2 separate regions of the Homo sapiens genome follow, and region 2 is linked to region 1. Evidence: fine-mapped expression QTL. A gene starts in region 1. The other region holds a variant in brackets. All regions are shown on one strand. Distances are from middle to middle. Region 1 holds the start of LINC01237 (long intergenic non-protein coding RNA 1237). Region 2 overlaps LINC01237 (long intergenic non-protein coding RNA 1237).

Region 1 (2,894 bases):
ACACATAAAGAGATTCTTCTAAATAAAGCATGGGTCAAAGAAGAAATCCAAAGAAAATTAGCACTTATTTCAAATATCCATCAAAATATTACACAAAAATTGTAGCATAGTCTTAGAGGAAGATTTGTGACTTTAAATACTGACGACATTTCAACAAAGAAGGTACACAGTGATCAATACACTCATGAAAGGGTGTTCAACTCACCCGTCACAAGGAAATGCAAACTAACGCCTCACTGAGATCTGCCAAACTTCTGGTGCCGACTGTGACCTGGCCGCGCCTGCGGGGGGCAGAGGAGAGAAGGAGACTGGGGGTGAGGTCCACGTGTCCCAGGCAGGGGGACAGAGGCCAGAAGAAAGTGGCTGCGGGTGAGATCCACATGTCCCAGCCAGGGACGGAGAGGAGGGAGAACCGGACAGCAGCATCTGCTTCCAGCCACGTCACGTGTTTGGAGAGGCGGTGTCACCTCAGTGTGAGGAATGGCCACTCAGGACACGTCTGGACTTCCTCCCAGCCACCTCTCACCAGGGATCAGAATCCCGGCCCCGGGGACCCTCGACCCATAAACATCTTGGGCCTACAGCACCACCAAGCACGCCACAGCCTTGGCCTGGGGCTGCTTCAGAGACACCGCACGGAGGGCTTCTCACTTCCCCAGCCAGGAGCCACCCACGCTGCACCCGGGGAGGCCCCAGTTGCATCTGTCCCACCTTTCAGACCGAGCCAGCCAGAGGCGCCCAGAAAGACTATGCCAGGCCTCAGCTGTGTTGAAACCCAGGTTGGGGACAGTGGCAGGACCTGTGCCAGCGTCTGCCCTTGCTCCTGGCTGGATTCAGTTACTTGGCTGGGCCCCAGTGAAGGCGCAGAGGGCACCACCACCTGCACAGGAAGGGAAGGAAGCCCACAGCAGAGCCAGCACACGTGTGGCCACGCCCCGGCCCAGCCCCCCCTCACACGTGGCCACACCCCCTGCCCAGCCCCCTTACATGTGGCCACACCTCCGATCAGCCCCCTTCCACACGTGGTCACGCCCCCTGTTCAGCCTCCTCGCACATGACCACGCCCCCGTCCAGCCCCCGCACACAGGGCCACTCCTCTAGCCCAGCCCCTCACACGCGTGACCACGCCCCTTAGTCTCCTCGCTCGTGGCCACGCCCCCTGCACGGCCCCCTCGCGCGTGGCCACACCCCTGTCCAGCCACACACACACACACACACACACACACACACACACACACACACACACGCTGGGCCACGCCCCTACCCAGCCCCCTCACACGTATGGGCACGCCCCTGCTCAGCGCCCTCACACGCATGGCCACCCCCCGTCCAGCCCCTTAACGCGTGCTGCCCCGTGCCCACCTACAGCGGCCTCCTCCGCACCAGGGCTGACCCAGTGTGGGGTCCAGGTGGGCTCTGGTAGGCCCCCGGGCAGAGCTGTGCCCCGCGTCACTGAGGATGCACAGAGAAAAAGGAAGGGGCGGAGGAAGCGGAAACCCGAGCAGCGCTGCCTGGGCGTGGCAAGCCCGCTAGTTTTCCCGCCCGCTCATCTGCTTTCCCTCCCTCCATAATAAGTGTGGCACCTGGAGTGTGTGACTTTCATGATTTTCTTTTAGGAGAAACATAACGCAGTCCTCTGTCCCGCCCCTCCTGCAGGGAATGGTCATGGGGGCGTAGTTAACCCCATGCGTGCGGAGGTACACCTTGGAGCCCAGCGCCGACACAGGTCAGGAGAGTGTTAGCCACTGCTGAATGACTCCTGTTGTGTGCAAAATTGTTTTGACTTTTAAAGACTACACACAACCCATTCTGCCATTATTTAGGGTGAATTATACTGCTGGGTCACAAGAAGAAGACGTGGCTCCTCTTGATGCTGAGGGAGGCCTGGAAGTCATTGCTGGGAGCTTGGGAAGAGGGCTCCCCGAGGCAGAGCCTCCCAGGGGACAGAGGCGGCCCAGCGATGACCTGGGAGGTGAGCACAGGTGTGCGGGGCCCCTCGGGGCCCACCATAAGGCCCCACAGCAGGCCCTAACCTCCCCCATGTGTCCTAAGGCAGTTCCATTTGCATTGGCAATGGTCATTTCACTACTTCTGACCTGGAAGCGAGGTATATGTTTGGAGGTGACACGAGGCTCCCAAAGGGGTGCTATAGGGCGCCTTTTCTTATTTTATAAAACTTACATCGAAATGAGCCGCACCCTGAGGGGCAGCCCACCTGCTCACCCCTGGAGGGACTCTCCCAGGGCTGAGGGTCTTCCCCAGATGCTTCACCCGGGCTCCTCCAAGTGTGGGGTGGCCTTCAGTCTGCTGCGAAGAGGATGTGGGGTGTCTGGCAGCCACTCTGCTCTGGATTTGCGGGAACCTCTGCTGCCTCCCTGGTGCCCCTTGATTGGCGCTGGGTCTAGGAACCCCCTCTGGGTTGGAACTGGACTTGAAAAGGTCATTTTCTGCCTGCACCCACCAAGGCCACCTGGGGCTGTGGAGCCAGGAAACCCCTGTCACTCTCCTCAGATGCTGGCCCGAGGGCACCCTCAGTCTCCCTGAGTCCAAATCACCTTTTCTTCCCAAATGACCCAGCAGCCTAGGCCAGCCCCAGCTGGAAAGACTGCTCCCCTCTCTCCTCCGCTCTGCTCCCCTGCCCTCTCTTCCCCTCCCCTCCCTTCCTTTCTTCTGCTGGCGGAAGTCCTGTGCCAATCCCACATCCACATCCGTCACTGCACTCCTGGATCACACCTGGACAGACACAGAACTAGTCCTGGGAGTGATCCCAGGGCCAGGACCCTAGTAATGAGTTATCTAAATGTCTCTGGGTGTCTGGAATTGGTTCTCTGCTCCAACTAGCTTTAAAGGCATTCACGCTCTGTTCCCAGGGGTACCAGGGTGCTAGCTGCCCA
Region 2 (2,894 bases), 71 kb before region 1:
CAGACCTTGTATCCAAAATGGCTTGCTTCCTCTTCTTCTTAAGTGTACACATAACATTCACCAAAATTTCCATATGTTGGGACATAGGGAAAGCCTCAAATAATTTCAAAGGATCTAAATTTAAAATTCAGAGCATATTTTCTGACCTCAGTAAACTTAGAAGTGAAAAAAAATACTAAAAAATGCTAAACTTCCTGGAAATTAAAGAATATGCTTCTAAATAATCCAGTGGCCAAAAGAAATCATAGCAGAATTTGGATATGTGTTGAATAAATGGTGATGAAGAAAAGACACATCAAAACTGCAGGATGCAGCTAAGCCAAGAGAAAATTATATTCACTGGAGCCTGCAGGGCAGCCACCCCGGCACAGGAGAGAGAGGACAGCGACGGGCCAGCGGAGACCTCAGGACAGCCCCGGCCTGGGCACATCTGGCTCCTCCCCCCGGCCTGGGCACCTCCGGCTCCTCCCCACAGCCTGGGCACCTCCGGCTCCTCCCTGGGGCCTGGGTACATCTGCTCCAGGCCTTTGCAGACACGGCGGCCGAGCACCCCCGGCCGGGCTGTGCAGCTGAGCACTTGGTCCTCTGCTCTGGGGGACAGTAGCGTGGCTTTTCCCACAGCTGGGGTCCCTGCAGCATCACGGGGCCACAAGTCGGGGTGACCTGCCTGCTGCGGGCTCCCTGGGTCAGACGCCCTCGAGCCTGGGTCCTCCAGCTTCCACTCCCCACAGCCTCTGGCCACAGATTCGGTTGGAGTCGCTGCTGAGGCCACAACAGAGGGCTGCGGCCGAGCGTCCACCAAGACAGGGGTCCGGCCTCCTGCCCCACCTGGCCCTGAGCGGAACCACTGCAACCCCTTCTCACCCTCCAGGAGCAGCCGCGTGCGGGGAAACAGCATCCCGTGTGAGGTGGAACCGGGAGAGGAACCTCCCCCCGCACCTTCGGGTGGACCCGGAATTGCACTCATTTATGTGGCCATTTGGAAGATGCCCCCGTGCGCTGAGCCCCCCGTCCCCTCGGTTCCTCCCTTCTCCCTCTCCTCCCCCCTCCCCTTCCCCTCCCTCTCCCCCCTTCTCCCTCGCCTGCCCCCCGCACCCACCTTGCTCTTCCCCCACCCCTTTCCCCTGAGCCTCACTCCCGACTGAGCCGGCAGCCCTGAGCCTGTATCTCAGGCGCTGCTTCCCGGAGAACCAGCTAAACACTCTTCACTCTCCGTCTGAGGGGCTGCTGTAACCACCACCACAGAGGGGGCGCACACAGACCTCCATTGCTCACAATCTGGCGGCTGTGGGTCTGAGGTCGGGCCGGCCGGGACGGGTTCTTGCTAGGGCGGCTTCCTGGCCAGGGCGGTGGAGAGCGAGCTCTGGTCTCCTCCTCTTCCTAGGATGGCACGAATCCCCTCATGTGGCCCCACCCTCATGACCCCATCTAACCCAAATCACCTCCCAAAGGCCCACCTCCAGATGTCATCACAGTGAGGCTTGGGCTTCCACAAAGGGCACGGTCCCGTCCCCGCTAAACATACACGCAAGAGCTTAAGGTTCTCAAAGTCATATCGTGGAAAACATTAGATTTCCTTAAACGTTAATATGCA[T/A]CTTATTTGTATTTAAAAAGGTTTAACAGACAACCCTGTCTCAAAATGATGCCAGGCAAGCCGAGAGAGATCATCACCCATTCTTGTAATCCAAAGCTTAAAAAAGTCCTTTCCTGGCTGGACGCAGTGGCTCACGCCTGTAATCCCAGCACTTTGGGAGGCTGAGGCAGGCAGATCACCTGAGGTCAGGAGTTGGAAGCCAACCTGACCAACATGGTGAAACCCTGTCTCTACTAAAAATACAAAAATTAGCTGGGCATCGTGGCATCTGCCTGTAATCCCAGCTACCACAGAGACTGAGACAGGAGAATCACCCACACCCAGGGGGCGGAGGTTGCAGTGAGCCGAGATCTCACCATTGCACCCCCACCTGGACAACAAGAGTGAAACTCCATCTCAAGAAAAAAAGTCCTTTCCTTCTCTGGATGTGCAAGGAGCAGGAAACTGACCACAGACAGCCAGAGCCATTTCCAGGTCCTTCCGCTGAAGCGCTCCTGAGCACTCCCTACCTTCCCTGCCCAGCACCCTTCCCTCCCGAGTCCCACCTCGATTCTCTTCCGGAGACACGCAGCCTGGGCTCCGTGGGCTGCCCCACCCTGCCCTCCAAGATGGTCCCGTGACCCAGGCCTGGCCGATGAGAGCACCCAATGCCCCACTGCAGTGATGGGCTCAGAGGTGGGCACAAGGCCCCAGCCAGTGCCAGCGTCTCAATCAGAGGCTCCTGTTTGAACTGCTGGGAAGAGGAAATCTCAGAGTAGACTTGAGGCTGCAAAGAAATGACCGTGGCTGCCAGGAGCTGGCAGGAGGAGAAATCTGGGGGACTCATTTCAGAGGAAGGCATGGGTAAGAGATAGAGACCACTGAAGCCCCTAGATCCACCCATTCCTGAATGCCCCTTTGCAGTTAGTAATTGCATACATCAACAACCCCTGCCCCTTCAATGACATTCTTTTTCTGGCTTTTATCAGCTTGAATTGAGTTCCTGATGACTGCAAACAAAAGAGTCCCACTCAAGTAGTTGTTGGTGCCGTTTTTGAGTTTAGGGCACTTCTGACTTTGAAGTTAAACAGTTAAACACTTGAAAGGAATGCAGTCGGTATGGAGGTTTTTGTTTTTACTTATTTGTTGCTGTTATTTTACACAAAACAGGAGTTTCAAACATCTGGAGGCTTTTAAGGATGGGGATAATTTCTCACAGCAGCCTTAAATGCTTTGAGGTGAAGCCTCCTGTTTCTCACTGAACTTATCTTCTCAAACATCTGGGCGGCTTTAAGCATTGCATTTAAGCAAACACTCTAAA

Evidence for each region.
Region 2: its variant is fine-mapped to the expression of LINC01237 in whole blood (TOPMed, PIP above 0.99).

The regions. Positions count from the first base shown.
Region 1 is chr2:241,879,947-241,882,840 of GRCh38, reverse strand. LINC01237 (long intergenic non-protein coding RNA 1237) reads right to left here and starts at 1,478. Exons shown (of 4, transcript NR_110220.1): 1 at 1,363-1,478; 2 at 206-281. It overlaps LOC105373978 (a long non-coding RNA gene), which reads left to right and starts at 1,514. Exons shown (of 3, transcript XR_924077.3): 1 at 1,514-1,726; 2 at 1,824-1,972. RefSeq lists an enhancer at 1,458-2,048.
Region 2 is chr2:241,951,409-241,954,302 of GRCh38, reverse strand. All of the region lies in intron 2 of LINC01237 (long intergenic non-protein coding RNA 1237), which reads right to left. Among named protein-coding and RNA genes, the nearest start is that of LINC01238, 18 kb to the left of the region's middle. The variant T/A (reference allele first, on the strand shown) is at 1,595.